Linked DNA regions of Homo sapiens: region 1 is linked to region 2. Evidence: fine-mapped expression QTL. A gene starts in region 2. The other region holds a variant in brackets. All regions are shown on one strand. Distances are from middle to middle.

Evidence for each region.
Region 1: its variant is fine-mapped to the expression of PRKAR1B in whole blood (TOPMed, PIP above 0.99).

The regions. Positions count from the first base shown.
Region 1 is chr7:618,099-623,467 of GRCh38, forward strand. The region is part of intron 4 of PRKAR1B (protein kinase cAMP-dependent type I regulatory subunit beta); the gene reads right to left. Among named protein-coding and RNA genes, the nearest start is that of PRKAR1B-AS1, 18 kb to the left of the region's middle. The variant T/C (reference allele first, on the strand shown) is at 3,325.
Region 2 is chr7:724,879-730,247 of GRCh38, forward strand. It overlaps PRKAR1B (protein kinase cAMP-dependent type I regulatory subunit beta), which reads right to left and starts at 2,403. Exons shown (of 11, transcript NM_001164760.2): 1 at 2,332-2,403. DNAAF5 (dynein axonemal assembly factor 5) reads left to right here and starts at 1,821. Exons shown (of 13, transcript NM_017802.4): 1 at 1,821-2,437; 2 at 4,785-4,969. The coding sequence starts at 1,843. RefSeq lists silencers at 1,894-2,093, 2,344-2,393, 2,454-2,563, 2,604-2,683.

The DNA of each region.
Region 1 (5,369 bases), 110 kb before region 2:
AGGGTGGGAGAGGTGGAGGCAGGGCAAGGTCCAGGAACACAGCCCGCACACCCATATCCCTGCACTCAGCTCACAGGCAGCCACAGCACTCAGACTGGGTCCTGCTGGGGCCACAGGGCAGCAAACCCCGCCGTTCCCGACAGGCCCACAGACCATGCATTTGGCAACACCTGTGTTTCGTGGGACATCCTATTCCAACATCTTTTCTTTAAACCCCAGATGTAAATATGGAGCACTCAGTTCATGCCGCTCTGTGATCTGTTCTTGTTTTGCCTATACATTTATTCCTCTCTTCCCATAGCCCTCTCGGTCTGTGGGCAATTGCTATAAGATACTTGAGGTCTCCCCTCTCGTTTGTATGTTTTCTCTTAAAACATAGAATCTTAAGCTATGTGCATTTAACCAAAAAATGGTATCCTGCTGCAGATTTCATGCTGTTTCTTCTTTTTCTTCAAGGAGTCCACATACTCTAGATCTACCCACGTCACCACATTGCCTGACACGTTGGGGCTGCGGCTTTGAACTGCCGTTTTGTTTGCATTTCCATTTCCCTGATCTCTAAGCTCTGAGCTGCTCTTCAAGGGCTTCTCCTCTGGTTGTGTTTCCTCTTCTGTAAACTTCCTGTTCATATCCTGTGCCCATCTTGATAGAAGGGTTGGTACCTTCTTTCCTGCTGATTTGCAGAAATTCCTTGTGTGTTTTAGATACCGGTTGCTTGTCGGGTTTAGATATTGCAACTATCTTCTTACACGCAGTCACCTGTTAACTTTTTCATGATGTCCTTAATTAGGTAGACATCTTTCATCTGATGTAACCTCTTTTTTGCTTTATGGTTTGTGCTTTGTGGGTTTTGTTTAAGAAAGTGTTTCCCCACAACCAAGTAATGAAATACTCTCCGACATGTCTGCCTGGGCTGCCATCACAGAGCACCACAGACTGGCAGCAAGACCCTGTCTTGAAAAAAGTGAGGTCCTACTGGAGTAGGGTTGGCCCTAACTCAATATGATTGGTGTCCTTATAAAAAGAGGAGACTTGGACACACACAGGGAAAACACAGTGTCCACGCAGAGCGAAGAGTCGGACGAAAGCACAGCAGGGAGGCAACACGGCACCTACAAGCCAAGGAGAGGCCAGGCCAGATCCCCACACACAGCCCTCAGGGGGAACCAGCCCTGCCCACATCTTGAGCTTGGACTTCTGGCCTCCAGAAGCATGAGACGCTTGATCACTGTTGTTAAGGCCAAGTTTGTCCTTCTGTTATGGCAGCCCTAGAAACTAACACAGTGTTTTACGCACAGTTGCTCATTTAATTCTCACAACAACCTTGTGGCATATATGATCATCACTCCCCTTATCCTCACATACAAGTGGGAGCAGGACAGAAGCACAGAGAGGTTAAGGAACCTGCCCAAGGTCACACAGCTAAGGAATGGTGGTGCTGGGATTCAAAACCGGGTGATCTGGCTCCAGAGTCCTTGTCTTAACCACTGCACTAAACTACCTCTTGCATCTATTAAATATGGAGCTCCCATGTGTGCCTGCACCTCCTCTCAGCTCTCGGCCCCACGCCATTGTTCTGCCGTCCCTTCCTGCAGGGCACCTGGCTCCATTTATGATCAAGGCCTCCTGCTGAGCCTCAGCTCTTGGTAGGAGAAGTCCCTCTTCTTTGTGCTTCTGTTTCAAAGATGACTTAGTTATTTGCAAATTTTTATTCTTTCCTTTCCTTTTTCTTTCTGTTGTTTTGTTTTTTGTTTTGTTGTTTGTTTTTTAGAGACAAGGTCTCACTCTGTCACCCAGGCTAGAGTGCAGTGGTGCGATCATAGCTCACTGTAGCCTCGAACTCCTGGGCTCAAGTGATCCTCCTGCCTCAGCCTCCTGAGTAGCTGGGCCTACAGGCACATGCCATCATACCCAGCTACTTTTTTTTTTTTTTTTTTTAGAGATGGGGTTTCTCTGTGTTGCCCAGGCTGGTCTCAAACTCCTGGGCTCAAACAATCCTCCCACCTCAGCCTCCCAAAGTGCTGGGATTACAGGCATAAGCCACCGCACCCAGCTCATTCACATTTCCGAATGTGTTTACTGCCTCACAATATTCCAGCTGCAATTTGAAGTGGAGCTGCTTTGAAGGTAGAGATTAATGTGAGGGAGAAATGACATCATCACGTTGAGTCATTCCACCCAAGAATACAGACCGCCTCTCCCTATTCAGATCGTGTTTTATGTCCTTATAGAGGTTTAAAACTTCCTCCCTAGAGTCTTCTGTAATCTGTTGTCAAGCACATTCCACTTCTCAGTGGCTGTTGCCCTCATGAATGGCATCCTTTCAAATTCTATTCTCCAGTTACTCCTCATCTGTGTCTCTTTTCTCATTCCCTGCACCCACCCAGCCCCTTGGGCTCTTTTTTTTCTCTCTTTCTTTCTGTTGAGACAGATTTAATATCTTCATTGTGATGGGAAGGAATCCGTATTTTTAAATTTTCTTTAAATTGACAAAGAAAAATTGTGTATATTTATTTATGGATTCCTTGGGCTTCTTAATGATGATTTTTGTAAGTTGAGCTTGCACCAACCCTGCTGAACACTCATAAGAATGTAAGAGTTGTTCTGTGTATTCTATGCTGGTTTCCATAGACATGATCAAATTCATCTTCTCTCTACCCTTCCAATTAGGACTCCTCTTATTTTTCTTTCTTTATAGCATTGCCGGGACCTCCCAAGCACAGTTAAACCATGAAAGCCATCAGAGCCTCATTGTGGTCCCTCCCTTAAAGAGCATGTAGCCAAAGATTCTCCATTAGCATGTTTGCTCTGTGTTGGGTATGTATGACCTTTACCAAGTTAAGAAGTGACCCTATTCTTAGTTTGCTAAGAATTTATGCAATAGTTGTTGAGCTTTGTCAAAACCTTTTCCAACACCTATGTGACATGTCACATGCTCTTTCTCTACAATCTACTAATATGGTGATTTACATGGATAGAGTATTCTGAGGTTGAACCATCCTTGAATTCTGGATCATCTCCACCTGATCACAGTACAGTACATACAATGATCTAGCAGCTTCCTCTTGTTTTCTATTTTCTGTAGCAATTTGAGAAGTAAGAATAGACAGTTTGCTGATGTTTGAAAGAACTCAACCAGTGAAACCATCAGAAAGAACCCTTTGGGAGGAAAGGTCTTTGGTTACCATTTCAACTTACTTAATGCTTCTAGATCTCTTCAGGTTTTCTATTTATTCATGTGCCAATGTTGATGGTATTTTCAAAATCATCTCCCAATATTTAAAAATTTACAAAATTCATAAAATCCAAATTGTTGGCTTTCCT[T/C]TGAAAAAAGAAAATAAAAAGAAAAGTCTGACAACACAGGGACCTTGTACTCCCAAAGCAAGAATTCAGCTCACCCCCACTTTGGAAGGAGCATGACCATCTCCAATCTGCCACAATTCCCAAGGACTCCACGTTTTCCACTTAATTCCTGAACCCCCAGGATCCCGAGTTTGCAACCCTTCCCTAAGGGGCTCACTATTGAGCAGTGGTGACAGATGCTTGTGTGGGGTGATGTCACAGCAGGTGGGGTCATCCCCATGACAGATGCTTCCTGGCCATCACCTCATCATGTGTGGTACAAGTCCCAACCTTGCCTGGAGGGACCCAGGGGACTGAGTTTCTGAAGAGTTAAGCCATCTGTAAAATGGGCACAGTAACACTCTCAGCCTCTAAAGCAGCAGGGAGGACTCAGTGATCATGAGGCTTGTGAAGCACTCAGCAGAATAAGGGGCTCCCACGGTCAGCAGCTGCTGCCATAGTGTCTGCTGGTTCCAAACCCCATGCAGCCGCTCCCCCAGTGCTGCTAGAAGGGTCACACATGTCCCAGAATCCCCCAGGAGTGATGCAAATGGAGCGGCCCATGCCCCGATCTCAGCCAGTCTCTTCACCACTCTGGCTTTTTTATTCCTTTTTGTTGGCTTACATTGCTAATATATTGTGGAACTGCAGCCAGAGGTGGCCTGACAGGTAAACACCTCCCCGCCCTCACCCATGCAAAGAAACCTGCTGAAGCAAACAGGTTCAGCCAGTTCTCAGAGCCGAGGCCACCTAAGGGGGACAACAGAAAGGATGGGCACCCACAGCCCCTCAAAGCTGCACCTCAGACCCGAGCACCAGGTGCCTGCCAAGGCTGGGCATGCATTCAGAAGAGCAGCGAGGTGAGGGGTGGCAGCAAGGACCCCCGCGCCACACAGGGCCTCCCGCTCACTCCTCCCGCTCCAACAATCTGCATTTCTGTATGTTAGAAATGTCTGCCTGAGGCTAAAAGAAATAAAGAATTTTTGTGACTTTTAAACAAAAGCATCATGACATTGACCTGGGAGAACATGAATGTGCTAGGATCGTATCCAGTAATAAAGAAGGCAAACTGAGTTATTAGCACTTCCAACATGTCTGATCTTTAGTTTTTTTCAACTCTCTATTTTGAAAATCTTTGAACCTTCCTAGGGATGGAAGGGGGATGTCAGAGTCAGGACACGGGTTGTTATTCCCCCTCCCATGATGTCAAAGAGCAGAACACACAGAGGCACATATGCACCAACAGTAGGTCTGCAGAGAATGTGCATATGTGTATTGACAAGGAGCAGACGGGAATGATGAGTGAAGAAAACAGAACATTTACCAAAAAGGACCCCGCTGAAGGCAGAACACTTGTTCCAGCGCATACTAATATGTTTTTCTGACTTCTTATGTTTTTCAACATGACGCTATCCAGGGGGAAAGAGTGGCCTGCTCAGTCTGTCCTCCTTTAGAAGTGGTTCTGAAAGACCTAGACATGCTGCCCTCGCTGGGGAAGAACCTCTCTCCATTGCGGATTTAAACCTTAGGTCAATGTTATTTAAGGAAAGGAAGTGGCCTAAACCCTTGGGCAGACCCTGGGTGCTGGCATCACGGTCCTATCTCTTCTGTCCCAGCCCAAGACCCAGGGTTCCCATCTGCTGGGATCCCAGCGCCCCAGACACAGCATCCTGGCTTGTGTTTAGCCTCTTCCACTGTTTAGGTGAAGGCTTGTTCCGTGACTCTGTTGACTACAAGTTTCCAAAAAATTCTCTCTAAATAGCAATAACTCAGTCCTGGCATCATGGAAAGCAGAGCTCCTGCTCCCGGCTGGGGTGCCAACAGCACGGTGTTCTCAAATCCCCTGGGACCCTCGGCCACACTCTTGACTGTGGGTCTGGTTCCTAACCACAAACATGTGGTAACAACAATTCTCTCTCTGGCCAAACTTTAGTCAGGTTCCAGAACCTTCTTCTAGGCCCATCTGTACTTCCTTGTAAAATAATCCTGCCAAATCAGTTCAGCCAGAACCGATCACCCACCATAAT
Region 2 (5,369 bases):
AATGAATGAAGGTTACTGAATATGCTACATAACAACTTTTCAGAAGTACTGATGGGCCGGGCGTGGTGGCTCACGCCTGTAATCCCAGCACTCTGGGAGGCTGAGGCGGGCGGATCACGAGGTCAGGACATCGAGACCATCCTGGCTAACACAGTGAAACCCCGTCTCTACTAAAAATACAAAAAATTAGCTGGGCGTGGTCGTGGGCACCTGCAGTCCCAGCTACTTGGGAGGCTGAGGCAGGAGAATGGCATGAACCTGGGAGGCAGAGTCTGCAGTGAGCGGAGATCGCGCCACTGCACTCCAGGCTGGGCGACAGAGCAAGATTCCATCTCAAAAAAAAAAAAAAAAGACGTACCGACAAACACCACCATTTTGCAACACGAAGATCAACAACAAAAAAGAAGGTCAAACTTGAAGTTCTGTCCTAAAATTACACACATTCTGCCTTTAGAAAACTCAGTGCATGGTCACAGATGAGAAGTGCCTGGCTAACCAGACTTGGGGACTCCTGGTTTGCAGTGAGTGCTGTCAAACTCGCGTTCTAGGCTGGGCTCACAGCAACTCCGACTCCAAGCTGTTTAGGCGCCTCTGTCTCCACTCAAGTCCACAGTCAAGGTCACTACTGTGAAACACTGTCTTGCTTTTAATTTCCAAGCTGCCTTGTTATTTCTTGGGAGTAGGCCAAGCTAACTTTAGGAGGAACTTAGTTTATAGTTTAACTTTGAAACAAAGATGATAACAGCCCTTTCCTGAAGCCAACCTCCTTCTTGCCTGGGGACCAGAATGCTTTTGTAAGACTAACACATGAGCCACAAGATTAGAAATTGTGGTTTGAGTCATGCAGCTAGAGGCCACAAGATTCCAAACCTCCCCAGTTGCTCCTTAGGATAACACCACTATCATCAACTCTAAGATTGGTGCTCAAGATATTTTTCAGGCTCTGCATTCTGATGCACCAGGTGCCACCACCCACACCACTAATCTGGCTCAACCAGTTCTGTGATCCCACCCAGGAACAGAAGACAGCAAGAGAATCAACTTTGACTCTCCATGGTTTCATCTCCAACCCGACCAATAAGCACTGCCCTCTCCCTGGCCCCCTACCTGCCTAATTATCCTTAGATGACCCATCTCAGGATTTTCAGAACCTGGTTTGAGCAATAAAGCTCCAGTGTCCTTTAGCCAGTTTCTGCATGCAGCCAGTTTCTGCATGCAGCCAGTTTCTGCATGCATTAAACTCTCTATTGCAATTCCCCTGTCTTGATAAATTGGCTCTACCTGGGCAGCGAGTAAGGCGAACCTATTGGGCGGCTACGCCTGAGATCTAATGACAGGCTGCACGTGAAGCCCAGACCAGGCACCTGTCTTACACCACAGGGGGATCCAGTCCACAGAACCAGCGTCCTTCCCTCCTGGAACGGACCTTCCCAAAGCCAGAGGGGCTCTAGGCGGCTCAAACAGGGGCTTCCCGGCTACCCTGGTCCCAGGCGGGACCACTCAGGTTCCTTCTCCAAGCCCCCTAGGCTGCAGGGCAGGCTTCCCTAGGGGCAGGCCCAGGCCTATAGCCCGGGACCCGCATCCCGGGCGAGCTGCACCCTCCCGAGACCTTCCCCATCTGTACAATGGGGACAGGACAAGGCCCAGCAGGCAGGCTGGCGGGGGTTCCGGCGACAGAGGGGGACAGCGGGCGAGCACGACAAGAGCACAGGCCCACGTGCGCACCGGCGGGGAGGAAGTAGCCCGGCGCCCCGCCCGCAGCGCGGACCGGAAGTGCTGCCGTAATCTGCGCTGAGAGTCGCGAAAGCGCTGTTCCCCTTAGTGACCGGCGACGCGGGCAAGATGGCGGCGCTGGGGGTGGCGGAGGCCGTGGCGGCCCCACACCCGGCTGAGGGGGCCGAGACGGCTGAGGCGGTGGAGCTGAGCCGCGCCCTGAGCCGCCTGCTGCCGGGGCTGGAGGCCGACAGCAAGCCGGGCCGGCGGCGCGCCTTGGAGGCCCTGCGGCGCGCGCTGGAGGAGCCAGGCCCTGCCGCCGACCCCACCGCTTTCCAGGGCCCCTGGGCGCGCCTACTGCTGCCGCGCTTGCTGCGCTGCCTGAGCGACCCCGCCGAGGGCTGCCGCGCGCTGGCAGTGCACCTGCTGGATCTGGGCCTGCGCCGCGCCGCGCGGCCCCGCGATGCCCTGCCGCGCCTGCTGCCCGCGCTCGCCGCGCGCTTGGCCGGCCCCGTGCCCGCGCGCCGCCCGCCCGAGGCCTGTGAGGAGCTGCGCCTGGCGCTTGTGCAGCTGCTGGGCCTGGCCGTGGACCTGTGCGGCGCCGCGCTCGCGCCCCACCTGGACGACGCTCTGCGCGCGCTGCGCTGCTCCCTGCTCGACCCCTTCGCCGCCGTGCGCCGCGAGAGCTGCAGCTGCGCCGCCGCCCTGGCGCAGGCCACGCCCGGTGAGCACCCCGGGCCCCGCTCCCACACGCCACCCCACACTCTCACCCCCACCTCCACCTCCGCGGCCCCTCTCACAACCCCCGCGGCTCGGCCCCGCCCCCCTCCACGCCCGCACCCCCCAACATCCCGGACCCCCCATGCGCCGCTTCCCCCACCCGCCTGCCCCAAAGCACCCCGCCCGGCCCCCTCCTCCCACCACCACTGCTTCCCCTGCCTCACGTCCCGCCACCAACGCGCCCTTCAGCTGCTCCCTTGTCCTCTACCCCCATGTACCTGTTTCCTGCGCTGCCACGTGCTCCTTGCCCCGTGACCCCTGTTCCTGCTTGGCCCTCACTCACCTCACTCCCCTGTCCCCTTGCTCCCCGCCTCCACCCTCCACGCCCCAAGCCCCGCCCCCCACCTGCCTGCTCCCTGTGCCCCCTCCACCTGCCTATCCTGTGCCATCCTCCTCCTTGCACGCCGCCCTCCCGCGACCCTCACCTCCCACCCTCCTCCCTGCCTGAGCCCCCTCCACCCCACCCGGGCCCACGAGCCAGCGCTTCTGTCCAGATACCTGGAAACCACCGCAGAAATTCCTGTTAGGCGGTTTGGGGTGGGGTGTGCCCTGATAGCTGCCCCCTTTCCTTCCCTCGGGGGCTTGCAGGACTTGCACCTGGTTGAGGGCACGCGCTTTGAGACTCTGCTCTGGTCATTTCACTTTCTGTCCCATTCATCCTACTCCCCTGCCTTTCCGCTCTGGCTTGGACCACTGTCCTAAGTGGAAGGAGGCCGCTTCTCCCCTCCACTTTATAACGTTCCCCATCTTTTTTAGAGCTCTGATCTGATCCGGTCGTTCCCTTTCCTTAGCTGGCCATTCCTGCAGGGTCTTGCCCTTTCCCTCCCCTGGCTGGGATGTGGAATGATAGCAGGCGCCTGCTTCCTGCTGGCGGGAAGGCTTTCCGAAGGAGGGAACACTGATGCTATAAATCCGTGGGCGGTAGGGAGCAGGAAAGCAGTGAGGGATCTGGCCAGCTCAGGCCGTCCCAGTGATGTCCCAGTGATGGTCTGAATGTAGTGGGAAGTGCAGGGGGTGTCAATAGAAGTGATAGACCCGAGTTCAGGTTGTTAAAAGATCACTGCAGCTGCGTGGAGAATAGATTCCAGAAGTAGAGGAAGAGCTGGACTTGGGGAAATGCCGAGATTTCCACGTTGGTTAACTTTGGATTTCACATGGTCCAGAACTCCTGTGGAGCTTGGGGAAGAACCTTGGGCTGGATGGACATGGCCATTGAGAATTCCTGGCATTTAATGTATTTCTTCTTCATCCTCAACCACTTCCCTACCCAGTCTGTACATCAGCCCCACGAGCTCCCTCCCTGGACCGTAGGTTCCACAGGACAGCACTGTGCCCATCTGTGCCCCAGCCCCAAGCGCAGCCTGCTGGGGTATGTGCTCACTGGTTGCTGTGGGGTGAGGGACTGTGCCTCTGCCTGGAGCATCCCCTCATCTCCAGCACCTCTGGCCTTCCTCTCCCCTGGGTGGGGGGCCTCACCTCTGGTCTCGGTCACACTGGGCAACGGCAGAGAGGTTGAGGCGCTCACCCAAAGTCTCACTGGAATAGCCGTTTCCCAGACGGGCCCCAAGTAGTGCAGAGCTGAGGCAAGAGGCGGCCTGGATGCCAGAGACCCTTTGGTTCTGACTTTTTTTTTTTTTTTTTTTGAGACAGGGTTTCACTCTGTCTCCCAGGCTGGAGTGCAGTGGGGCGATCTCAGCTCACTGCAACCTCCGCCTCCTGAGTTCAAGCGATTCTCCTGCCTCAGCCTCCCAAGTAGCTGGGATTACAGGCGCCTGCCACCTCTTGTTCTGACTTTCTGCGGGGACTTTACAAATAGGAAGTGCAGTGGCTTTGCCTGGAGTGGTGCTGGCCCAGCTTCCTGGAGGAGCCTGGGGTCTCGTCTCAGGTGGGGCTGGGAGTGTGGCCTCGCCTCTGTCTTCTGGGCTCGGCTTCTTTCCTCTGGCCAGTGTCCCCGTCAGGCCTCCACCTTGGCTTCAGCAGGTCCAGGCTCTCTGGTCTTCAGCCACAATGGGTTTGCACCCCCAGCCTTTCCCCGCTGGTCCTCCTAAGCCTCTGGGTTGCACAGGTGTCATCAGGGTGGGACGCTTGTCCCTGAGCCTCTTCCTGTGCCGGGCGGTACAGAGCTCTCCTTGGCAGCCTGGATTGTGTACTGTTCATGCAGCAAGGACCTGGCGTAGGAGAGGAAGGGAGGTGAGGAACTCATAGGCAGGCAGCCGTCCTCTGGAAGCCCACAGAGCTGGGCGAGGCGTGTGGGAGCAGCTCTGGTAACTGGGGGCCTCCCTGTCCCTCAGACCACTTCCACATGCAGTCGGAGTCTCTGATCGGGCCCCTGATGCAGACCATCTCCCACCAGCACTGGAAGGTCCGTGTGGCCGCCATTGAAGCCACAGGCGCAGTGATCCATTTTGGCAACGGGAAGTCCGTGGACGACGTGCTTTCCCATTTTGCTCAGCGACTGTTTGATGACGTCCCGCAGGTAACTGGTGTTTCTCCTGGACAGTCTGTTCCTCTCTCCAACACAGGCGGGCTGACGTGCTGTTTTTAACTAACTCACTTGTTCTTTTTTCAGAGTGCTGTATGCACCAAATGTCCTTTCATTATTCCTAGTCACAGGACGTTCCTGTTCACATCTTGGAAAAACTAGAAGAGAGCTGAACTGTTTTAATGTTTGATGTTATGAATTCCAAGGATGTTAGAAAGGATGACTTGTGTAGTTATTGTCTCTTAGGCACAGTGTGCACTTCAGCAGTTGCAGAAGGTTCCTTAGTGCTCCCATCCATCAAGACGCACTTTCCCGAAAAGCCACCATGGTTGGTGGACCTGGACTGGGAGAAGAGTGGAGTCGGGGTTGGTTTGTTGGGGATAATTATGTCGTT